7 linked regions of the Homo sapiens genome follow. The protein of the gene in region 7 purifies or fractionates together with the protein of the main gene of each other region. This does not show direct contact. Each region holds a gene or a part of one and is shown on either strand. Other genes may lie near its edges.

Region 1 (3,500 bases), on a different chromosome or scaffold from region 7:
TTCTCGAGTCAGCATGCGCCTGTCAGCCCAACATCAGGGCTGGGGCGGGCAGGGCTGGCCTGGTGAATCCACATGGGAAAGTGTGTGTGTGGACGTGGTGGGGGCCACTGGGCCACTGACCTGGGAGATGACAAGCTTGAAGGATGACTTAAACTCCTGCACGTCAGTTGTCAAGCGGCTCACCAGCTGCCCTGTCTTATTGGCGTCAAAGAAGGTGATGTCTTGTCTGGCATGGGACAAGAACCAATAAGGAGGGCAGAAGAGGGAGACATTACTTCAGGATAAGGTCCTACCCCCAGACCCCTCAGGCCATCAGTCACCCCAACTCTGCACCCTGCGGCTGGCAGTACCGGAGCAGGGAGCTGAAGAGGGCCCTCCGCATGTCCACAGCCATGCGCTCGCCAACGTGGGACAGCAGCACCAGGTACCCGAAGGTCAGCAGTCCCTGCGAAAGAGCCCAGTGCACTCAGGGATGCCTCGGGTGGCTCCTCGGCGGTCCCCAGCCCCACTCCCGGCTGTACCTGGACACCATAGAGGATAAGCAGGTGGGTGCTGAGATTCTGGGACTCAGTCATGAAACTCCCTACGTGGTCCCTTGTGTACTTGGCCACGACCTCTACCAGCTGGCCCAGGAGCAGGGGGATCTGTACATTCACGAGTGCCGCACCCAAGGCCAGCTGGAATGGGGAGACAGAGGGCACAAATGTTTTAAGTGGGGGAGCCACTCCTCCCCATCCCCAGCCAGATCTTGGCCCTTCCTCTCCCACTACTGAGCACTGCGCTTGTCCAGGTTGTGGCTGGTCATGTGGACACATCAGTGCCTCTCAGAGGTTCAAACCCTGGCTTCCAGTCCCCACGGAACCCTGCCCACCCAGCCACCCAGTGTTGATGCTCCTGGCACCCCTGGACCCCTGGCTAGCCCTTGCTGCTCCCCTGAGCTCTCCCCTGAGAGGCAGCGAGGCAGGAATGCCATCCCTTTGCAGCTCTGGGTCCTGCCCTGTCCCCAGGATGGAGAAGTGGGGAAAGCCTCACCACGACGGCTACCCCCAGGACCAGCAGGTGGGGGTGCAGAAACTGCCAGAAGAGCTTCCAGTTAAAGCGAGACCCCACGACATGGGGTGTGGAGCTGGCAGGAGGGGCCTCTTCTGCCTCACACAGGGCCACAAGGCAGAGGTGGGGATGCTTACTCAGTACCATGGGGCCTAGCAGGGCTCCCCCAACCCAGCACCAGGCAGAGGGGCTCCATCTGGGAGCTAGGGGGGCTCGAGGGAGGTGGGCCCAGAGCTGGGACCGCAGGTGGGCCACGGCCCGGAGGAGGGAGGAGCTGCGGTAGCCATCAGAGTACCTGTAAGGAGAGAGAGGCATGGATGGCTTGAGGCTCCGACTGCCCTCCTGCTGACCAGCACACCCATGGGGCTCTGGCTGAGCCCTCTGGAAGGAGCACTTCCTCTTCTGTCAGGCCCTTGCCCCTGCCCTTCTCAGGGCTGTTCTGAAGCAACTTCAGTTTCTAAGACATGTCCATGGGCAAAGTCGCAGAGGAATGAGGCACTGAGCACAAAATCTAGTCTTAAAAGTCTTATTCCCCTGGGCAACTCTCAGGCAACACCCAGCCAGCCAGGGCCCTCGCAGCCTCGACTCCAGGCTCTGACAGAATGACAGCCTGAAGAACTGGATGGCACGTTAGATGGCCACACACTGCCTGGACAGGAAGGGGCCGGGGGTTTAAGGGACCACGGTGCAGAGAGGTGAGGAAAGAGAGCTGCTCCTGTGCCCGGCACTGGACTTGCTCACAGCAGCCACCAGGGCAGACACAGCCCCACCTCCTGGAGCTAATGGGCTACTTCCCTTGATCCTCACCTCCCTGGGAGGGAGGTGCCATTATTCTCACCTGACAGATGAAAAAAATCATGTGGAGCTAAGAGAGCTGAAATAACTTGTCCGCAGGCAGCAGAACTGGGACGAGCAGGGAACCAAGTCTGCAGTCTGACTCCAGCACCCAGGCTGGCTCTACTCTGCCAGTGTGCCATGTCTTCTGATGTCCCAGGCCCATTACCCTACCTCCCCTCCCTGGCCTGGGGCGCCATGACACACACTCCCTCTCCACAGCTGAAGGAGGAAACAGAGAAAAATAAGAATTCTAATAACTTATCTTGTCATCTTGAATAGGACAATTACCTTCTCTTTCCTTCAGCTGCCACATCTATAAAATGCTAACATCGATTCCACTATTCTAGACATTGTGTTTTTTTTTTTTTTGAGACAGAGTCTCGCTCCGTCACCCCGGCTGGAGTGAAGCGGCACAATCTCGGCTCACTGCAACCTCTGCCTCCCGGGTTCAAGAGATTCTCCTGCCTCAGCCTCCTGAGCAGCTGGGACTACAGGCACGAGCCACCACGCCCAGCTAATTTTTGTATTTTTAGTAGAGATGGGGTTTCGCTTTATTGGCCAGGCTGGTCTTGAACTCCTGACCTCATGATCCACCTGCCTCAGCCTCCCAAAGTGCTGGGATTCCAGGTATGAGCCACCGTGCCTGGCCTATTCTACACATTTTGAACCTACTGTGTGCAGGTGCTCTGCTCGGAGTTATGGAGTTACATGACAGCTGAAGTAACTCCCCTCACAGCAGTCATGCTTGAGTGCGGGAGACTCACAGTTAACTGGAAATCAGAGGCACAAAACAGCTTGAAGCCCTGCTCCTCCTTCTCCTCAGAGGGAGTCAGGAAAGGCCTTCTAGGTAAGGGGGAACCTGTGAGGGGGAACAGGCCAGGCACAGGTGGGGGTGGAGTGTAAAGGGGAGAGCTCTAGGCAGAGGAAAAGCAAGTGCAGGTATCTCCAGTAAGAAAGGATGGGAGAGAAATTTCAGGAATTGTATGGCTGAAGCCTGACCTACAAGAAGGGAAAAGAGACATGAGACTTGCGGGAGGGGCAGTTTTCTAGTTCTTATAAAGCTCCTGGACTTGGGGGGCAATAAGGGTCATGGTGATTTTTAGGCCGAGATGTGCCAAGATTAGGTTTTCATTTTAAAGATCGTAGCATGGCCGGGCGCAGTGGCTCACGCCTGTAATCCCAACACTTTGGGAGGCTGAGGCGGGTGGATCATTTGAGGCCAGGAGTTCTAGATCAACATGTTGAAACCTTGTCTCTACTAAAAATTAGCTGGATGTGGTGGTGTGTGCCTGTGGTCCCAGCTACTTGGGAGGCTGAGGCAGAGAATCACTTGAACCTGGGAGGAGGAGGTCACAGCGAGCCAAGATCGTGCTACCGTACTCCAGCCTGGACAACAGAGCAAGACTCTGTCTTGAAAAAAAAAAAAAAGATCATAGCAGAGGGGCATGGGCTGGAGGCAGACAGGACTGGTTGTAGGGAGCAGAAGTTATCCAGCCAGGAGAGGATGGTGAGATCTAGAAGATCTAGATAAGCTTACTGATGGGGAAAGGTTTAAAAAAAGAGTAGTGTGAGCTTTTCTCTTTACCATCATGGCCTTTCACATCCCTAGACCC
Region 2 (3,500 bases), on a different chromosome or scaffold from region 7:
GGATAAATGATGTTGTAAGAGCCCCATGTGCTTCCAGTCTTTCCATTGTTGTACAAGGCAAATTCTAGATTCCCCAGCAGTTTAATGAAATACTGGTGCTCCTTCCAGCAATAATTTTTTCTAATACAGAGGGAGACATGCATTCTTCATAAAGCAAAAGTGGGGCTACAACCAAAATGGTGTGCATATGACATTTCTATCAATAGTGGAAATGCTTTATTAATAAGCTCGAGAGCTATTAACAAAGACTTTAAATATAACACCCATATAGATGTTTGTAGGGATGAAATGAAGGCAGTAAGAAAACAAATTAGCCAACAGTTGGCCTCCCTGTATCTGTTTCTGCCTTTACTTTAATAACTTATCAATGCACACAAGGGGAATGCAAAATTCTCTGCATGGGAATGGCTGTGGCTCAGAGCAAGCTTGTAGATGCTGCATGTCTCTTCAATGGATACAATTCTATTTTTTGATTGCTTAACAAATGTTAGAGAAGGAGCTGGAAAAAGAAACAAGTTTTCATCAAAATCAGAATATTGGGCCAGGTGCAGTGGCTCACGCCTGTAATCCCAACATTTTGGGAGGCCCAGGCGGGCGGATCGCTTGAGCCCAGAGGTTCAAGACCAGCCTGGCAACATGGTGAAACCCCATCGCTACAAGAAATACAAAAATTAGCCAGGTGTTGTGGCACACACCTGTAGTCTCAGCTACTCAGGAGGCTGAGGTGGGAGGATCACTTGAGCCCAGGAGGTTGAGGCTGCAGTGAGCCATGATTGTGTCACTGCAGTCTAGGTGACAGAAGACCTCATCTCAATTTAAAAATATCAGAATAATATTTAATAAAATATTGTACACATGAATTTAAAGATCCTTTGCCTTTTATCTCAGTTGTAGCACCCAGGATAACCTGAGAAGTGGAAATCTCACAAATTTATTACTCTCTTCTCCTCTCTTTCTTTCTCCCTCTCCCCAACTCCTTTATTCTGTTTTATGTGCATTTTCAACCCTCTCAGAATTAATTATATCTTAGACTCCTTAGAGGTGACTTCTGCATTTATTAGACTCCAAAGAGTTAAATATACAAGAATTAGTTAGTTACAATGCCAGTACTGACCAAAAAAAAAAAAAAAAAAATGAGATTGCAAAAAATTCCTTTTGTTCAAGGATTAAGTGCAAACTGCACTCCACAACATTATGAAAAATATTGGCCCTTGGGGGAGATACTTCTCTACTTTTGAAATGACTGTCTTGTGATAAAATAACCAAACCTAAAAATGAGATAACATGAAAAGGAAACTACTATTGTAATCTTGACCTCTACTTAAGATACATCCCTCTTCATTCTTTTATAAAAAGCTCTAAGAATATTTATTTTGGCTGGGTGCGGTGGCTCACGCCTGTAATCCCAGCACTTTGGGAGGCCGAGGCGGGTGGATCACGAGGTCAGGAGATGGAGACCATCCTGGCTAACACGGTGAATCCCCGTCTCTACTAAAAATTCAAAAAATTAGCCAGGCGCGGTGGCGGGCGCCTGTAGTCCCAGCTACTCAGGAGGCCGAGGCTGGAGAATGGCGTGAACCCAGGAGGCAGAGCTTGCAGTGAGCCGAGATCGCACCACTGCCCTCCAGTTTGGGCAACAGAGCGAGACTCTGTCTCAAAAAAAAAGAAAGAATATTTATTTTAACCAGAAAGAAAGGGCCTTCTCTTATATGTTAAGTGAAAAATCAATTTGTTTTCATTTCTGTGCCTCATTTAAATTATACATAATAATAAAGAAATTACATTCTGTTTACAGTTCATTAACTGGGGAAGCTGTATTTTGGCCACTAATCATCTGAGCATTTTCTGTCTTGGGATTTAACATAGAACTGATCAACACTGCCTCCTCCTGTCAGATATTATGTGTAAGACTATAGAAACTCCTGTCCAACATTTTAGAACTGTAAGGGAATCTAGAGAGAATATAGTCAACTCCATGTTTCTCCAACCAATTTAATACATAAAAGCGGATGATAAGCTATTAGATTGGTATTTCTATCAATATTTTATAGAATTAGAGAAAAATGGAGTTTTATATTCTTGAATAATCTGTGTCTTTGGATGGAAAACTGTATCTATACACTTGGAAGCTCAGAACTTCTAAATACTAATTTGAAAACTTCTCTTTTTCCTCACGGCTTATCCCCTAAAACACATGTAGCTAATAAAAATGAAATACAGAGAGAAACAAAAGACATAAAATTATAGAGGCATTGCCATTAGTGTCCTTCTTTAAAACAAAAACAAAGCATTGATATCTGGAGCCAGCAGGGAATGCTCTATGGAAACTTTGAGTGCATTAGGACTGAAATGTTCGCACACATGATTACAGTTCTTTACTCTAAGAAATTATTTTTAGGCTTTTAAAAAACATTCATCCAAATAACTTAATTTGGTAAGAAAAGCTATGAACAAATGGAAAGAATGTATTTCTCACTGGACTCTTTCTTCTTCTATAGATAAAATCGCTATTCCAGATTTTGGCACTGGTGCCATGGAGAACTGGGGACTCATCACGTACAGAGAAACGAACCTGCTTTATGACCCTAAGGAATCAGCCTCATCAAACCAACAGAGGGTGGCCACTGTGGTTGCCCATGAACTTGTGCATCAGGTACAGAATCTTAGCACTGAATCAGCTTGTTTTTTTAAAGTGGCTTAAGACCACAGGAATAATTCAAATTATTTATGACTTAGCAAATAAAAAATAGCCAACTCAGAAAAACTTGCATGAAAATCTTTCTTGGTACTAATAAACATTTAGCCATAAAGAGACTTTGAACCACATTGTTTTGCCTTTAGGAAATATGCACGAGGCCTTCATATAAATTTATGTACCCCAGTAATAACTAAATAAAGGCAATAAACTAAAGACAATTTAATATCATTTAAATAATCAGAATAAAGCAGGAAATAAATGTTAAGTACAATGCCTGCCACTTCTGTCACAGTGACAACATTGGCACGGACAAATAAATGTTTTGACATTTTCTAGGCCTCTCTACCATACCCATAAGAATGTAATTATCTCTTTATTGCTTATAATTTCAGTGGTTTGGAAATATTGTGACCATGGACTGGTGGGAAGACTTGTGGCTAAATGAAGGATTTGCTTCTTTCTTTGAGTTTCTGGGAGTAAACCATGCAGAAACAGACTGGCAAATGGTGAGTCCTAAACACATAAACTTGAAATCTCTCTTTTCCTCATGCAAAGCAGATGGAAGCCTTTGGACTATGATAATGGTCCCGAGTCAGATGGCAAGTACAGTGGTGAGCGGGGAATTCCACTGTGAGGATAGGGTGGAGCCAGCTGACTTCCACTGACTACACCTTGCCCCAGTACCTAGAAGGGCAGCTGATCATCACAATCTGGGGATATCCTTGACAGAGTCACTCAAAACACATTATCAAGGCAGGAAAAAAAAAAAAAAAACAGGTGGCATAGAAAATGTTAACTCTGT
Region 3 (3,500 bases), on a different chromosome or scaffold from region 7:
CTTGGGCTTAAGTTCTGGACTTTATTAACTGGCATCCAACATCACCAAACATGAGTCATAGTTGGCCAGTGACTTGGAGGGGTTCTGAGGACACAGGCCTTTCTGTTTTAACACCTCAGTTCATGGGACTTTGGTGCTAACACTGGGTAAGTCCCATGAGATCATCTGGTTACCCTCAGTGCATCTCGCCATTCTGCTACTGCACCTTCCTGTCAAGAGTTACAGACCTGACCGCCGTATGATGGACCTGACCGCCGTATGATGGACCTGACCGCCGTATGATGGACCTGACCGCTGTATGATGGACCTGACCGCCGTATGATGGACCTGACCGCTGTATGATGGAGCCCATGCTGACCTTTAGGTAAGAGGCAGTGGCTTACTTTTTAAAGAGCAGAGACAGGTACTGACAGCATAAGCAACTGCTTAGTTTTTCATTCAAATGTATTTCAAAGCTTTTTAAAATAAAAAGAAACATGTATAAAGCATGTCTTCTGTCTCCTCGATGTCCTCCACAAATTTCTACCTTTATAATCTGGCACCAAAGGAGCTTCCGTCTACACTAGCAGTGAGAGAAAGTGCAACGTGGGGTTAAAGCATGAGCTCTGGAATCAGGCCACTGGCCTGTCTTTAAGATGGGATAATAAGACCGCACCCGCCTCCTTGGGGAAATGCAGTGTTAAAGGAGAGAAGACATGTAAACCACTCAGCCCAGGCCCAGCACACAATAAGCACACAACAAACCGAAGCTAGGATGTTAATAAAGAGATCGATAAAGTCCTTTCAAACAGCCCAAGATGAGAACTAAGTGCTTACCCATTACTCTGGCGCTCTCCACTTCGCTTCTGGGAACAGCAGGAATACGTCAGTATCTTGAACATGTCGGTGAAGGCACTGCCATCAGGAGGCTTGGTGATGAAAACGCTCTGGCCACAGAGGAAGACCACAAAAGCAAGGCCGACGCAGACAGTGGGGATCGCATAACCAGTGACAAAGCTGACGTTCTGCTGAATATAGGCAATGCCACCTAACGACAGGATCGCTCCCAGGTTAATGCTCCAATAAAACCAATTAAAAAATCTCCTAGTGGCTTCCGGACCTCGATCTTTAACCTAAAATAACAGGGAGGAAAGACACTTGAAAATATATGACAGTCTTCAAGGATGAAAACCATATACGGTCAAGTGGTTAAAATTACCGTTGTCATCACAACCTTTAAGAAGCGCAACACAATCAAAATTGTGTTTACAGAAACATTCACGGATCTCAACAAAAAGCACACCCCACGCTTTTAATTACTACAGTTGCTAGGTAGGTTTCACTTAATTACACTAAATTCCAACAAATGCTAGAGAGTTTTTCCAAGTATATTCTGCTGTAGAATTTTCTAAGTACCTGAACCACTTGCCTTGGAATTACCTGGAATGCTCTTTAAAAACAGAGTCCGCTGGGCATGGTGGCTCACGCCTATAATCCTAGCACTTTGGGAGGCTGAGGCGTGTGGATCACTTGAGGTATGGAGTTCGAGACCAGCCTGGCCAACATGGTGAAACACCGTCTCTACTAAAAATACAAAAATTAGCCAGGCATGGTGGTGGGCACCTGTAATCCCAGCTACTTGGGAGGCTGAGGCAGGAGAATCGCTTGAATCCAGGACATGGAGGTTGCAGTGAACCGAGACTGTGCCACTGTACCTGGTTGACAAGAGTGAAACTCCATCTCAAACAAACAAACAAACAAAAAACAAACACAGTCACAGGACCCACGCTCCAGACCTACTGAATCACGGTCTCTGGGGCCCAGGCCCAGGAATCTGCATTTCAAGCAACTTCCCAGGTGACTTCTACTCACAGGTAAGTTTTAGAACCAATGTTATAAAGCTCCATGCCTTACTGAGCTACATGCAAGTACCATGAGGCACCCCACAAATATGCTTAGGCCCCAAAGAGAGACATTTGTTCAGTGAGGCCAAGTCACCACCCACACCAATTGTATCTGGTCTCCTGAGAATCAGAGATCTCAGTAAACTTGAAGCAAAGAGGAAATTATAGACTAAAGATAAAACCACATGCTATTTTTAGATTAGACAGGCTATCAATGGAATCGGAGAAATTCTGATAAGGGTGGGATTTCCAAAAGGCTCAAAAATCACTGACTTCCTGGACTCAAACAAAAGCACTGAGGTAATAACGCAACATCTAGGCTTATGGAGTTCACGAGGCTACTTCAATGGAGCCCAAGCGGTGGGAACAGGTCATTTGGGGGCAGACACACCAGAAGCCTTCTCTGCCCACCTGGATTTTTACGTCTAAATAAGATACTGTGCAAATGAACCCTGTACTAGACAGAGACATTTCTAGTGAGTTTCATTTCATAAATTTATTTTTAACAAACTTATGAGAGGCTGATACTGGATCTCATAAAAAGACTCTCTTGCTGTCTTAAAAACTTCTACTGTCTCATTCTTAAGTCACAGGTTATGAAAGAGTTAGAAAATTCTTATTCTAATAATAGATCTAGTTTCTGGATCCATAGAACAATCTGCTCTACTGAATAACACATTCTCAATGGGGCCAAAACAACCAATTACGGTTGGGCATGGTGGCTCAGGTCTGGAATCCCAGCACTTTGGGAAGCCAGGGCAGGCAGACCGCTTGGGTCTAGGAGTTTGAGAGCAGCCTGGGAACACAGACAGACCCCCATCTCTACAAAAAATTACAAACATCAGCCAGGTGCGGTGGTGTGCGCCTACAGTCCCAGCTACCTGCGAGACTGAGGTGGGAGGATCCCTTGAACTGGGGAGGAGGTGGCAGTGAGCTGTGATGGCACCACTGCACTCCTGCCTAAGCGACAGAGGCCCTGTCTCAAAAGAAAAAAAAAGATATGGTATGTAATAAGCACATGCATCTTTTTAGCAGTCATATATTTGATATGGTATTTTAAACTCTATTTTTTAAAGATTAAATCAGAGGAGTAAAATTTATAGTTAAAATTGTGTGTTCCTCTCTAAAGGAAATAGAGCAAAAGAAAAAAAATTGTGTGCTCCTCAAAAAGAGATTTGTTTGAAGTCCAAATGATTAAGCATGGCCACTATGGTGGCAGGTAATTAATTATATATAGTAACACCACTTCAAACGAAAAATCTAAATTTAAAAGAAAATCACTTATTCTCAAGAGTTTAAACTTTTCTCTTATCTATTACAATACTGAACAGAGGTCCTAGACCAAATGCAGACATCTCTACTGAATAAAGAGTTTGAGGTGAGAACTTCACAGACATCTAAGACACTTCTTCACTAGGACACAATGCATTTAAATATTGCTCAACAGTGGACACCAATTCTCATGCTATACTAGACATGGACCAGGAAGAAAAATGAAAAATGTGAGCAGAGAAATGGTTACTGAGAAAACAAAACTAGAAGTGCGAAAAAATAACAAACAAAAAGTAATTTTTTGACAAGCATAAAAGAGGCCAGTAAACATAGTATATAAACTTA
Region 4 (2,233 bases), about 120 Mb from region 7:
TGGCCGCGCCCATCCTCTGCCTCTTCTGGCTGCTCTTCTTTTCCACCATGCGCACGGGTGAGGGATCCCTACCCAGGGAACGGGGGGTGGCGAGCAGAGTGGATTCCAGCCAGAGCAGGCCACAGGAGAAGCCGCATGGCTGGGGGTGGCAGGCAAGGGGCCTGGGAGAGGCTGGGGCCAGTCTGTAGCACCTGGGAGAGTGAGGACTGCATTCAGAGGGTATCAGAAGCTGGGGTGGGGAGGCCCACAGGAGATAGCAACCCCATTCTTTGCCCCCCAACACCAGGGTTCCTAGCTCCCACGTCTATGTTCACATTTGTGGTCCTGGTCATCACCATCGTCATCTGTCTCTGCCACGTCTGCTTTGGACACTTCAAATACCTCAGTGCCCACAACTACAAGGTGTGGGGCAAGGGTGGCAGGCGGATGGCTGCGGGCAGGAGCTCAAGGGGAGGAATGCAGAGGGCCACAGGGCTGGCGAGGGCTGAGGGCAGCGCCAACAGGGCCAAGCGGGCGTGGGGTCATGATCAGGGCTGAGGACATGCCCCCACTTCCTGACTCATTCTGGGCCCCTCAAGATTGAGCACACGGAGACAGATACTGTGGACCCCAGAAGCAATGGACGGCCCCCCACTGCTGCTGCTGTCCCCAAATCTGCGGTGAGTGCCCTCAAGGGTTGGGAGGGGCCTCTGACAGACTCAGCCTCAAAGCCCAGTGTTCCCTTAGTCCTGCAGAAAGGGGAACCTGTGCCAGACCCCATGGGGGCGGGAAGAGAGCTGGTCTCCCTGGAGGGCTGCCCCCGCCCCCCAGGGCCCTGCCCACTCTGCTGTCCTACATGCCCTGGTGTTCCCGCAATCCATGAGGGGCAGCTGTTCACCTTGCCCCCATTTCCTCTCCTCCTTCAGAAATACATCGCTCAGGTGCTGCAGGACTCAGAGGTGGACGGGGATGGGGATGGGGCTCCTGGGAGCTCAGGGGATGAGCCCCCATCATCCTCATCCCAAGATGAGGAGTTGCTGATGCCACCCGACGCCCTCACGGACACAGACTTCCAGTCTTGCGAGGACAGCCTCATAGAGAATGAGATTCACCAGTAAGGGGAGGGAGGGGCCCTGGAGGCCACATCCTGCCCCACCCCACCCCCACTCCCACGGACACTAAAACGCTAATAATTTATTAGATCTAAAGCCCCTTCCTCCCCAGCCCCTGCTTTCATTAAGGTATTTAAACTTGGGGGTTTCACTGCTCTCCCCCATGATGGAGGGAGGGAGCCCCCCAACCTCAGTGAGGAGAGCCCCGAGCCGGCCCCGGGGCAAAGAGGGGTGCAGAGGGAGTTCCCCCAGATCAGTACCCCCCACCCCTCCCCAGCTAGTAGCATGACCAGGAGAGGGTTAATGAGAGCCAAGAGGAGTACCTGGTGCACCTGGTGCCGGTGGCTGGAGACCTGGGGGGCAGGTGGATCTGGGGCTGTTCCCCCCCCTCCGTTTTTTCCACCCCACAGTTCCTCCTGGGATCTGGCCCTCCAGGGAAGTGGAGCCTCCAGCCCCTAGGGGATGCATGAGGGGGGAGGGGGTGCTGAGTGGGAGGAAGAGTCAGGCTCACAGCTGGGGTGGCCTGGGGGTGGGGGTGGGCAAGGCTGACACTGGAAAATGGGTTTTTGCACTGTTTTTTTTTTGGTTTTTTTGTTCTTTTTTGTTTTTTTCCTTTAAAATAAAAACAAAGAAAAGCTCTGAGGCAGGTGTCTGACTTGTGCTGCCCTGGGCACCTGGGCCGGGTCCCCACCCTCCTATCTGGAGGGCCTCTTTGAGGTCCCTGCATGACGCTGGGCAAGGGACTTGTTCAGAGTCTCATTTCTGTGTCACTGAGAGGAGAGAGTGGGGCTGGGGAGAGACTTAAGGGATATCTCAGAGGCAGGAAGGGCCCCTGTGCCCAGGTGGCCACCATACCAGCCTCGCCCACTCTGATCATTCCCCTGAGTCCCTGAGCAACACACATGGGACAGAGATTCAGGGAGAAAAGGTCGTGCAAAGCCACAGGGTCCATGCTGGGCCAGGACGAAGGCCCTTCTGAGCACCTCAAAGTAAGCCTGGCGCCAGCCCATCTGTCCCTTCCCCAGGAGGGCCTGATCTCCTCAATGAGAAGCCCCCTCCCACCCTCCAGTCAAATCTTACCCATTCTCCAAGACCCAGCTCAAATTCACCTTCTCGCCAGGCGCGGTGGCTCACGCCTGTAA
Region 5 (3,500 bases), on a different chromosome or scaffold from region 7:
TGTGCGCAGGCGAGTGTAAACTGCACGGGCGCGTGTGCTCACCGTGTGCGCAGGCGAGTGTAAACAGTGCACGGGTGCGTGTGCTCACTGTGCGCAGGCGTCTGTAAACAGTGCACGGGCGTGTGTGTGCTCACTGCGCAGGCGAGTGTAAACTGCACGGGCGCGTGTGTGCTCACTGTGTGCGCAGGCGAGCGTAAACTGCACGGGCACGTGTGCTCACTGCGCAGGCGAGCGTAAACAGTGCACGGGCGCGTGTGTGCTCACTGTGTGCGCAGGCGAGTGTAAACTGCACGGGCACGTGTGCTTACTGTGCACAGGCGAGTGTAAACAGTGCACGGGCGCGTGTGCTCACTGTGTGCGCAGGCGAGTGTAAGTGCACGGGCGTGTGTGCTCACTGCGCAGGCGAGTGTAAACTGCACAGGCGCGTGTGTGCTCACTGTGCGCAGGCGAGTGTAAACTGCACGGGCGCGTGTGTGCTCACTGCGCAGGCGAGTTTAAACAGTGCACGGGCGCGTGTGTGCTCACTGTGTGCGCAGGCGAGTGTAAGTGCACGAGCGCGTGTGTGCTCACTGCGCAGGCGTCTGTAAACAGTGCATGGGCATGTGTGCTGTGTGTGTGCAGGCGACCGTAAACAGTGCACGGACGCGTGTGTGCTCACCGTGTGCGCAGGCGAGTGTAAACAGTGCACGGGTGTGTGTGCTCACTGTGCAGGCGAGTGTAAACTGCACAGGCGCGTGTGCTCACCGTGTGCGCAGGCGAGTGTAAACAGTGCACGGGCGCGTGTGCTCACCGTGTGCGCAGGCGTGTAAACTGCACGGGCGCGTGTGCTCACTGCGCAGGCGAGTGTAAACAGTGCACGGGCGCGTGTGTGCTCACTGTGCGCAGGCGAGTTTAAACAGCGCACGGGCGCGTGTGTGCTCACTGCGCAGGCGAGTGTAAACTGCACGGGCGCGTGTGCTCACTGCGCAGGCGAGCGTAAACAGTGCACGGGCGCGCGTGTGCTCACCGTGCGCGCAGGCGAGCGTAAACAGTGCACGGGCGCGCGTGTGCTCACCGTGCGCGCAGGCGAGCGTAAACAGTGCACGGGCGCGCGTGTGCTCACCGTGCGCGCAGGCGAGCGTAAACAGTGCACGGGCGCGCGTGTGCTCACCGTGCGCGCAGGCGAGCGTAAACAGTGCACGGGCGCGCGTGTGCTCACCGTGCGCGCAGGCGAGCGTAAGCAGTGCACGGGCGCGCGTGCTCACCGTGTGCGCAGGCGAGTGTAAACAGTGCACGGGCGTGTGTGTTCACCGTGTGCGCAGGCGAGTGTAAACACAGCTGGTGCCCTGGTGCGTGTGTGCTGTGAGCACAGGTGTCTGTAAATGATGTAAACCTCCCTTGACGTCAGGCCCAAAAGCCTGCCTTGCCCTAAGGTCAAGAGGTGTATCTGGCTGATGCCAGCGTCTGGGTGAGGAAAGAGCAGGTTCCACAAGGGCGACTCCTGTGAGGGTGTTGGCCTGAGCGCGCATGCGGGGAGGGGTCGGGGTGGGGGCGGCGCGCCGCAGTAACTCAGGGCCCCATCCCGCTCCCGTCTGTCCAGCGGTCCTAGACCCCCATGTCCTGAAGCGCACCTGTGCCCACCTGGCCCCGGGGAGCGCAGGTGTGGAGATGGGGTGTCGTGCCTGGGGGTTCCTTCCCCACGCGCTGCCCCACCAGGATTTCCCTGGGGTGGGGAGGGCTGCTGAGACAGGGCGCTGCCCTCCTCCAGGGTGACTGAGATGCAGTTTACAACCATGATCTCCTGGCCGGGCGTGGTGGCTCACGGCTGTAATCCCAGCTCTTTGGGAGGCCGAAGTGGGCGGATCACGAGGTCAGGAGATCAAGACCATCCTGGCTAGCACGGTGAAACCCCGTCTCTACTAAAAATACAAAAAAAAAATACTAGCCGGGCGTGGTGGCGGGCGCCTGTAGTCCCAGCTACTCGGGAGGCTGAGGCAGGAGAATGGCGTGAACCCAGGAGGCGGAGCTTGCAGTGAGCCCAGTTCACGCCACTGCATTCCAGCCTGGGCGACAGAGCGAGACTCCATCTCAAAAAAATAAAATAAATAAACAACCATGATCTCCCGTTTCAAGTTGCCACCACTAACTGTAGCCCCGCTGACGGGGGCACTGGCCTTGCAGACTGTCCAGGACGGCCGGCAGTTTCTAAAGTATGTTGACCCCAAGCTGGGAGTCCCACTGCCAGAGAGAGACTACGGGGGAAACTGCCTCATCTACGACCCAGACAATGAGACTGACCCCTTTCACAACATCTGGGTAAGACGCCGGGGGCCCTGAGGCGAGCCCCTCCCCAGGTGTGGCCCCGTGCCGGACCAGGCGCCATCCACGCTCCTGCCTCGCACCCCTCAGCCCACACTTGGGGTCTCCTGGTGCAGAGATGTGCTGAGGCCCTGTCCGTCTGGATGGTGCTCATGGTGGGCAGGGGGCCCCTGCTCTCTAGGCTGTCGTGGACGTGGTCTCCACAGGCCACGGCAGCACCTGTGAGTCCCTGGCCTTCTTCCCGGGGTCTGGCAGGTGCTGCTCAGGTGTGGGCTGATCTGCCGGTGTGGGGAGTGGGGGTGGCTGTGCCCCAGGGTCAAGGGTCATACCCTGTCGCCCACAGGACAAGTTGGATGGCTTTGTTCCCGCGCACTTTCTTGGCTGGTACCTGAAGGTACGGCACCTCCTCTTCCCGGCCTCCCCGCCCCGGTTCTGAGGCCTGCCGTGGGCTCTGGACCGTTTCTGTCCATGGAGTTGAGCTCAGGGTGCTCTGAGTGTGGTGGGAGGGTGTCGCACTGCAGCCACCCAGAGGTTCGAGAAGCCGTGGGGCTCCCGGACCTCCCAGAAGCCCTGATCCTGGTCGGGTCCCCGCTCCGTCCTCAGGGTCGGGGCGGTGGAAAGAGGCGGCAGGGCAGGAAGTCCCGCCCCTGCCTGGGCTTGGGCACTGCCCCATCCCACTTCTGAGGGACCCTGTGCTACCTATGGGGCTAAGAGCAGTGCCTGCTTGACCCTGCAGCCCACCCTGGCAGAGTTTGGTGTCAGGCCCCGGGCACGGGGATGCTGCCTTGTTTGCTGACAGTCGTACATCGAGGCTGCTGGAGGGGCAGCCACCCACCCCACGCTCACCCTGAGACCTCACTGGGGGCCCTGCCAGTGCTGTCGACTCCAAGAATGCTGCCAGCCGGGGTGGGGGCTGCACGCACCCGTGGGCAGGGCCGGGCGTGGCCTGCGTCCCATACTCTGGCTGCCAGCCGGGTGGGGGCTGCACGCACCCGTGGGCAGGGCCGGGCGTGGCCGGCGTCCCATACTCTGGCTGCCAGCCGGGGTGGGGGCTGCACGCACCCGTGGGCAGGGCCGGGTGTGGCCGGCGTCCCATACTCTGGCTGACCCTGGCGCCCACAGACCCTGATGATCCGAGACTGGTGGATGTGCATGATCATCAGCGTGATGTTCGAGTTCCTGGAGTACAGCCTGGAGCACCA
Region 6 (3,500 bases), on a different chromosome or scaffold from region 7:
AGCCCCAGCTGATCTTTGCCATATGAAAATACTGCCCATATCATCTGATTGTTTTCTGATTTTAAAGGAAAGCTACAAGTCTAGATTTGTAATGTAAAATCTCTCACTTTTGAAAGATTGGTAACTAATTAAAACATTTTTTAAAACACAGAAGGCCTAGAAGAACATGGTTGCAGGTCTCTAGTTTATGCTGTATGGCCTGCAAGATGATGTAAGTAATATGACAATGTTAATAACCCATATACCAGAATTGGTAAACCAAAGTATTTGCCTTATGCAGCTACCTGCTTATTGCAGTGAAGGGTACTGAGAGTGTAATGACCATCTCTTGTCCTCAGTTAGTTACACATGTTTTTTGGACTGTCTTTAAAGTGAACAGTAACACTTCATTTTTTTAAACATGATTTTAATCTGAAAATAACTTCAGCAAGAGTTTACTCCTTGCTTAGGTATTGAGCAGACTTTACATGAATGATGTTTTTTAATCTTTAAAACAATTCATTGAAATAATGCTGTTTGTGCACAAAGAGGGTAAGTAGTTTAAGGTTACATAGTTAGCAAATGGTAGAATCCAAGCAGTCTTACTTTAAAAGTAAACATTATGTTATAGAGCCTTCTGAAAACAGTCATTCAGAGCTGTGGAAAATAAGTAGTCAAGCAGAATAATACAGATTTGTGTTTCTTTGAAGCAGAAAGAAAATAATAAAGGAGTGACTAGAATGATGAGTTGTTTGTTGTTTTTGAAGAGTTTTGTTGTTTGTATTTTAGTTTAACAGTCTTGTTTTGAAGCGCATTACTAACTAGGAATTCCAAAAATGTTTTAAGCAGTGGAAACATCATTGGAATAAGTTAATAGTACTCAGGATGATGACTTTGAATAGGAAAGCACTCATTTGGAAGTGTAAATTCAGATGGGTTATGTTAGAAAATTGGTTTCGTTACTGCATAATTAAGACTTCTTGGGCCGGGCACGGTGGCTCACGCCTGTAATCCCAGCACTTTGGGAGGCCGAGGCGGGCGGATCGTCTGAGGTCGGGAGTTCGAGACCAGCCTGACCAACATGGAGAAACCCTGTCTCTACTAAAAATACAAAATTAGCCAGGCATCATGGTACATGCCTATAATCCCGGCTACTCAGGAAGGCTGAGGCAGTAGAATCACTTGAACTCGGGAGGTGGAGGTTGCAGTGAGCCGAGATTGCGCCATTGCTCTCCAGCCTGGGCAACAAGAGCAAAATTCCATCTCAAAAAAAAAAAAGACTTATTTTCTCTTTTATTTAGTTATTTAACCATGCAGTGTCTTCTAAGTGACAGAGATGGGAAGACTAGATGATTTGAAGATTTGTCTTTTAATATAATTGTTTACTTTTCCTCTCCCATTTTATAAACTCATAGGATGAGTGAAATGAGAATTCTTTTCTGTTTTTCTGTCCTAAGTGTTTCCTTCTCTCTTTGAACCCTAGGGAATAGGTCCAAAACAGGCAGGCTTTATTGGCTCATTCATCTTGATTCCTTGCAGAGCAGAGCAGGTGTTCTCTAGAGGCAAGTGCTTTGTCTCCTCCTATGCAGAATGTCTCTGGAATACCATCCTCTTAGCCAGTGCTCAGATGACCTTAGTTGATAACAGTTAAAACCATTAACATTTTTTGGATTACGTTTTGTGGCAGCCTTACTCTTAGGAAGCCAAGAAAAGAATTAAATCTTGAAAGTTTTATTTTGGAGGTCTGTATACTTTCATAGATTTGGTATATTTTATGATCTGAAATACATTTAAATAAGTATAGGAAAACATGAACCGATTTTCCTTTTATTAAATTGGGGATTTTTTGTCTAGCATAGTTGGTTAAGCTTATATTTTTGTATTAAGTTTACTTGTCAAAATATTTGGCTGTTTTGACAGATGGGTTTGTTTAGCTTTACAGATACTGTGATACGGATCAGAAACCGACACAATGATGTCATTCCCACAATGGCCCAGGGTGTGATTGAATACAAGGAGAGCTTTGGGGTGGATCCTGTCACCAGCCAGAATGTTCAGTACTTTTTGGATCGATTCTACATGAGTCGCATTTCAATTAGAATGTTACTCAATCAGCACTGTAAGTGTCCCTCATGAGTCAAGAGAAGAAGCTAAATGAGATGTGTTGGCATATTTTAAATTTATTTAGGAAAGTTCCATTTAGGTAGGAAATTTAGTTTTACCTTTTGGCTAATTAAGAAAAATAAATAGACTGCCATCAAGAAAGGTGTTTTTATTGAATGTAAAATACTATGTTTATCCTAAAGGAAAATATTTGTTCTGTTTGGTACAATTTAAACAGTATTCAGATTTGGAAAAGAGCATTAGGTGGTTTAGCTTATTTTGTTGGTTTTTTTCCTTTTTGGATAGCTTTATTGTTTGGTGGAAAAGGCAAAGGAAGTCCATCTCATCGAAAACACATTGGAAGCATAAATCCAAACTGCAATGTACTTGAAGTTATTAAAGGTAAATACTGACATTTCTCCTTGCAAAAAAAGATACAAAAATCAAAATTATTGTTATTTCTTACTATTAAAACATCTATTTGTATCATGAGATAAAATGGTAGGCACAAATGCATGGGTTTGAAAATAACCTTATAGTATTATTTGTGCATTATGTATAGGATGACTATTTTATTGATAGAATTATTTGTTAGGCAAAGTTTGGTGATACTATAGAGGATATCTTTTTTGTTTTGTTTTGTTTTGTTTGAGACAGAGTCTCACTCTGTTGCCCAGGCTGGAGTGCAGTGGTGTGATCTCAGCTCACTGCAGCCTCTGCCTCCTGAGTTCAAGCGATTGTCTTGCCTCAGCCTCCCCAGTAGCCGGGATTACAGATGCTCAACACTACGCCTGGCTAATTTTTGTATCTTTAGTGCAGGCAGGGTTTTACCATGTTGGCCAGGCTGGTCTGGAACTCCTGCCTGCCTGCCTGCCTGCCTCGGCCTCCCAAAGAGCTGGGATTACAGGCGTGAGCCACCGAGCCCAGCTGAGGGTATCTTTCACTTAAAAAAGAATTGAAGTCCCTACTGCCCTGTTTCTAATTCTTACACTATGAGCAGTAATTCATAACAATTTGGTTTGAATCATTTCACACTTTTTTCTATTTATACCACTTGTACACATACACAATTGATGTTGGTCTTACATTGTTGTTTTTAGAAAATGGGGTGCTCTATGTTTTTTTCTACAAGTTTACAGACATCTTGCTGTTCAGTACATCTGGATATGCTCCAAGGTTTTGAATGGCTCTATGGAATGTATCAGTATGTGTTAATTAATTCTCCTGTTCATGCACACTTAGGTTGTTTTAATTTTTTTCTGTTACCACCAATACCAGCAGTACTGCTGTGAACATCCTTAAATACACGCTCACTTTTGCTAGTATTTTAGAGGTGAGATTCCTAGAATTAAAAACATTTAAATGCATATAAAATTTTGGTATCTCCAAAAAGGTTTCAAACAATGGATAAGAGTGTT
Region 7 (4,031 bases):
AGGGACAATGATATTGCAGAGGTGGACATTTACCCCTCGTGTTGTAGGCAGACCCTGTTTCCCTTTCTTTAAGTTATGGCTTCCACATATATGGTCATATATGGCCCCAGGAACCCAATTCAGGACTCTTGCAATCCCACGGGTATTAGGGAGATTCTACATTGGGCCTGGTGCTGGGGGCTCCCAGCATATGCGAGACAAGCAGAGGATAGGATTGAGCTCAGAGGCCCTGAAGGCTGATGGCCAGGTGGATGGTGATGAGGCCAAAAAATGAATTGGGAATTACAAAAGGGATGAGATCATCTGTTACTCTCCCTTCCGACTTGAAGCTTCTGCATAGCCCCCATGGAAGATTTGCTGTGTAATGTTGAAATATCTGTCTATGACCCCAGAGAATTTGAAAATAAAGACATTGGTCATGGTTATCCAAGCAGCAGAAGAAATTTAAGATTGTAAAAACACCAGCATGAAGGCCAGGAGATTGTGGTCTGTGTGCTTGGGAAAGGATGGGATTCAAGCAGGGGCAGGTGCATCCAAGTGTTCTCCAAACCTTTGGGATTGTTTAAATTCCACCACAGGTGATTCAACCTACCTGTCTGCTATGTAGCCGATACTCATAGAGCCAATAAAGAATCCTACATTCACTGATGACTGGAATAGGTCCAACATCCAGGAGTTGGCACATACCAGGTTAAACTGCCAGCAGGGGAGAAGTGTTCCAAGTTGGGAGAGAAAGGAAATGAAATCCTGTTAGAATCCTGTTGGACATAACTCAGCTAGGGTACTCATTAAATATTCCTTGAATTGAACTGTATAGTTAAGTGGCAATAAGCCATTGTTTCTTGATCATGCCAATTTTCTTCTTCTTCTCTCTCTCTCTCTTTTTTTTTTTTTTTTGTGAGACAGGGTCTTGCTCTGTCACCCAGGCTGGAGTACAGTGGTGATCATGGCTCACTGCAGCCTCGACCTCCTGGGCTCATGTGATCCTCACACCTCAGCCTCCCAAAATGCTGGCATTATAGGCGTGAGCCACTGTGCCCAGCCTCAGTTTTCTTTACATAACCAAAAGGCTTGCCCTTCCATCTGGCAATTTGTCATGAAGCTAAAACTACAGCATTGGCTAAATCAGCTGAAACTGGGTAATTACTTATAGACAAATTTATTTTTTCCTTTCTAATTTCAATGCACATGCAGATAGGTGTGTGGACGTGATACAATGCAGGCACCAGGAGGTTGGGCCATTTAGCATCTCCCTGCTGTCTGTTTAATAAAAGGGGATTAGGAGTGACTGCTGAAGGCTGCTGCATTTGCTCTTATTTGGAATAAGAGGAGGTGGTCGGGTGGAGCAGGTGCTGGACCAGGTCAGGAGACCCATCTTTTAGGGCTAACCCTGCTAAGTTATTCACTGTGTGGCCTGGGGAAAAACCTTCTCTGCTTGGGGCCTCAGTTTCCTCATCTCTGTAGGAAGCAATGAGATTGGCCATGTGAGAGAGCCTCGGAGAGTTTGTGGTGTGAAGCCCATGAGCTGCCACATTTCCTGTAAATATCTGACCACTTTAGACCCTTCAAATTAGACTCTACCTACCCATCTGTTCACACAGAATATCTTCCCATTGTCCAAGCAGTCATTTTAAATTAAACTAGGCAACTGGCTCTCTCAGTATTTTCAGGTAACTTAATTCCCCTATTTTGCTTTGCTTTCAATAAAAGCAAGCTCCATTTTTTGTCTTTTTTTCTATTATATTTATTGGAATCAGGCTTCACAAATAGCTTTTGATGTCATCTGTAGTTTTTAACAAAATAATAGTGCCATAGCATGATCTCCAGCCCCAAATGATTTTATATGAACACTTTGAGGAAATTAAAGAGAAAAAATAGGTATCGAGAGAAAAGCACATCCTATCACACAGTCAGGCACAGTTCAGTTGAGTTCCACGGGCTTTCAGGTGTGTGTGGGCATCTGCGGGATGGAGGAATAGAGGGGGAGGTAAGGCTTCCAGAAAAAGAGGAGGATCCACAATATCCCTATCTTGGCAACATTTCCAGGAGTCCTAATATGCTTTGGCCTGTTCCTTATTGCTGGGACATGCACAAACTAGAATCATTATTGTCAGCATCTGAGGACGTTTTAACTAATCCAGTTATTCTCCAGACAAATTAGAAGCTGCATGTTCTCATTTGGAAACTAGGATTTTGTAAGATACATGCAGGCCAAAGAGATGTCCAGGCAGGGTTTATAAGAGCCGGGCCTTCCCTGCTTGCTTCCTTGAGAAAATCTCCACCATTTGCTTCTCCATCTGAGCCCTGAGCTCACTCTCTTACCTCGGTGACGATGGACGAGCCAGGCGTCTCGTACACCCAGCCGTCCCGGCAGGGGCCCAGTGGCAGGCGGCTCCTGTTGGTGTCCAGGCTGGCCAGGGGGTCCACGCAGTCGAAGGTGCTCTGGTTCCAGTCCACCTCGTAGCGCCTACACTGTCTTGGGGAGGCTTCGCCCGCAGGTCCTGGGCCCGGCACCGTGTAGTTCAGTTCCTCTGCAGGACTCCAGCCGCAGCGCAGACTCAGCTCGGCCACTCCGGGGCTCCGGCAGCGGTGGTCAGGGGTGAAGCCCAGGAAGACGATGCCCACGTAGATGGGCGCGAAGGTAGCCGAGAGCAGAGCCAAGAGGAAAAACATTTGCTTCTGGAAAAAGTGAAACTCCCCTCCATGCTCCAGGACATCGTCCACGGTGGTGGGCATGATCCTGCAGGCAGGAGGGCCCGAGGCTGCCCGACGTGCCCGGAGCGAGGCTGAGAGCGGCTGCAGCCAGCTCAGCACAAACCCTGGCCAGAAGTCAAAGAGGGGAGTTTACCTCTGCAAGTGACCAGCCTTCAGGGCAGGGCCTTTCCTTGGTCCAGCTGACTTCAAAGGTGCACCCCTCCAGCGGGGGTGCATGTCCTTCTGCACTTCCCAAATGCCCTGAGCTCACTCCCAGGATGCCTGTCGTGTTTATTATAACTGGTTCTCCACAGGCTTGTCGGTGCTCCACGCCAGCAGCACAAACAACCCGCCCTCTGTGTCCCACCGCAGGGAATCTGAGTGCTGGCCCATATCACAGCCCAGTAATCTTCCCGTAGTGCCCCGAGCAGCCAGGAACTTAATATACTCCTATCTCATGCGCACCGCCAGCTTTTCTTCAAGGCCCTATGGAGAAAACACACGTGTTTGGCCACAAGGCCCAGCGTGATGTGAACCAGGATCCGTGTCAGAACCCTGGTCCAGATTCGAAGTGGGTTGCAAGCCTGACTGCTGGGCTCATTCTCCAACCAACAACAAGAGCCGTCGGGATGCATGCTGGGGCTGCTTGTTTTGATGTTGTCCAGATTTTATAACTCTGCTTTTAAAAAGTGTTTGCTCCAATCTGGTATTCCTGCGTTTCAACCCTGAAGTGTCCTTCCCCTTAACCCATCTGGAGGGAAAGAGGAAAGTGTTTACGTCGCAGACAGGTCAAGTGTAAATGCAGGCAGGTGTGTCCAAGCCACTATCTTTGTGTCCTAGATTTTTCTGTCAAGGTCTGTTGGGGCTCAGAAATCCATGCCCCAAGGTGGAGGCCTCAGAAGCAAAGTCTCTCTCTCTGACCTTCTCCTGCCCTCCTGTCTCTTCTCTCACCCATCATTCTCCCCCGGGGCAAGCCATAGAACTGAGAATCCTTCTTCCTCAAAGCAGCTCGTGGAAACCAGACTCTTTTCTCCCCAAAGCCAGCCAGAAAGCCTAGAAATACCACTGTAACTTCCCCGCTGCCTTTCTGTGTAACAGTGGGCCGTAAAGAAATCCAGACCCGCATTCCAGAGGAGTCTTGTCCCCGGTGCCTGGAGGAAGGAGTGCTGCACAGAGGGGCCAAGACGGATCTGAACAGACAGGCCTTGCTGGGTTTTCCCCTCAGCCTGCGAACATGGGCTGCTGCCCTTTTTGTCCAACTACAGTTCTATACTGCCATCCAGTTTTCCCTGTATCTGTGGGTCTTCATTCTGAATGAAGGCTCCTGTGTCATGTAA

What was found.
Region 1: the proteins of SLC22A2 (region 7) and ABCB8 purify together in Homo sapiens (affinity purification with mass spectrometry; one large-scale study listed by BioGRID and IntAct). This does not show direct contact.
Region 2: the proteins of SLC22A2 (region 7) and ENPEP purify together in Homo sapiens (affinity purification with mass spectrometry; one large-scale study listed by BioGRID and IntAct). This does not show direct contact.
Region 3: the proteins of SLC22A2 (region 7) and SLC15A4 purify together in Homo sapiens (affinity purification with mass spectrometry; one large-scale study listed by BioGRID and IntAct). This does not show direct contact.
Region 4: the proteins of SLC22A2 (region 7) and TMEM63B purify together in Homo sapiens (affinity purification with mass spectrometry; one large-scale study listed by BioGRID and IntAct). This does not show direct contact.
Region 5: the proteins of SLC22A2 (region 7) and PTDSS2 purify together in Homo sapiens (affinity purification with mass spectrometry; one large-scale study listed by BioGRID and IntAct). This does not show direct contact.
Region 6: the proteins of SLC22A2 (region 7) and PDK1 purify together in Homo sapiens (affinity purification with mass spectrometry; one large-scale study listed by BioGRID and IntAct). This does not show direct contact.

What each region holds. Positions count from the first base shown.
Region 1 is NC_000007.14:151,031,450-151,034,949, reverse strand, and holds part of ABCB8 (mitochondrial potassium channel ATP-binding subunit), read right to left. Parts: intron 1,346-3,500; coding exon 1,033-1,345; intron 678-1,032; coding exon 522-677; intron 446-521; coding exon 351-445; intron 227-350; coding exon 121-226; intron 1-120. UniProt on the Homo sapiens protein: ATP-binding subunit of the mitochondrial ATP-gated potassium channel (mitoK(ATP)). Together with pore-forming subunit CCDC51/MITOK of the mitoK(ATP) channel, mediates ATP-dependent potassium currents across the mitochondrial inner membrane.
Region 2 is NC_000004.12:110,507,155-110,510,654, forward strand, and holds part of ENPEP (glutamyl aminopeptidase), read left to right. Parts: intron 1-2,498; coding exon 2,499-2,653; intron 2,654-3,090; coding exon 3,091-3,204; intron 3,205-3,500. UniProt on the Homo sapiens protein: Regulates central hypertension through its calcium-modulated preference to cleave N-terminal acidic residues from peptides such as angiotensin II.
Region 3 is NC_000012.12:128,813,959-128,817,458, forward strand, and holds part of SLC15A4 (solute carrier family 15 member 4), read right to left. Parts: exon of another isoform or gene 1,420-3,500; intron 1,113-1,419; coding exon 817-1,112; intron 1-816. UniProt on the Homo sapiens protein: Proton-coupled amino-acid transporter that mediates the transmembrane transport of L-histidine and some di- and tripeptides from inside the lysosome to the cytosol, and plays a key role in innate immune response.
Region 4 is NC_000006.12:44,153,787-44,156,019, forward strand, and holds the end of TMEM63B (mechanosensitive cation channel TMEM63B), read left to right. Parts: coding exon 1-57; exon of another isoform or gene 58-191; intron 192-286; coding exon 287-402; intron 403-578; coding exon 579-659; intron 660-905; coding exon 906-1,097; 3' UTR 1,098-1,733; downstream 1,734-2,233. UniProt on the Homo sapiens protein: Mechanosensitive cation channel with low conductance and high activation threshold. Osmosensitive cation channel preferentially activated by hypotonic stress.
Region 5 is NC_000011.10:484,779-488,278, forward strand, and holds part of PTDSS2 (phosphatidylserine synthase 2), read left to right. Parts: intron 1-2,112; coding exon of another isoform or gene 2,113-2,160; coding exon 2,161-2,295; intron 2,296-2,641; coding exon 2,642-2,692; intron 2,693-3,420; coding exon 3,421-3,500. UniProt on the Homo sapiens protein: Catalyzes a base-exchange reaction in which the polar head group of phosphatidylethanolamine (PE) or phosphatidylcholine (PC) is replaced by L-serine. Catalyzes the conversion of phosphatatidylethanolamine and does not act on phosphatidylcholine.
Region 6 is NC_000002.12:172,562,590-172,566,089, forward strand, and holds part of PDK1 ([Pyruvate dehydrogenase (acetyl-transferring)] kinase isozyme 1, mitochondrial isoform 2 precursor), read left to right. Parts: intron 1-151; coding exon of another isoform or gene 152-211; intron 212-1,521; exon of another isoform or gene 1,522-1,541; intron 1,542-1,913; coding exon 1,914-2,098; intron 2,099-2,388; coding exon 2,389-2,484; intron 2,485-3,500. UniProt on the Homo sapiens protein: Kinase that plays a key role in regulation of glucose and fatty acid metabolism and homeostasis via phosphorylation of the pyruvate dehydrogenase subunits PDHA1 and PDHA2.
Region 7 is NC_000006.12:160,256,022-160,260,052, forward strand, and holds the start of SLC22A2 (solute carrier family 22 member 2), read right to left. Parts: upstream 2,801-4,031; 5' UTR 2,737-2,800; coding exon 2,323-2,736; intron 697-2,322; coding exon 593-696; intron 1-592. UniProt on the Homo sapiens protein: Electrogenic voltage-dependent transporter that mediates the transport of a variety of organic cations such as endogenous bioactive amines, cationic drugs and xenobiotics. Functions as a Na(+)-independent, bidirectional uniporter.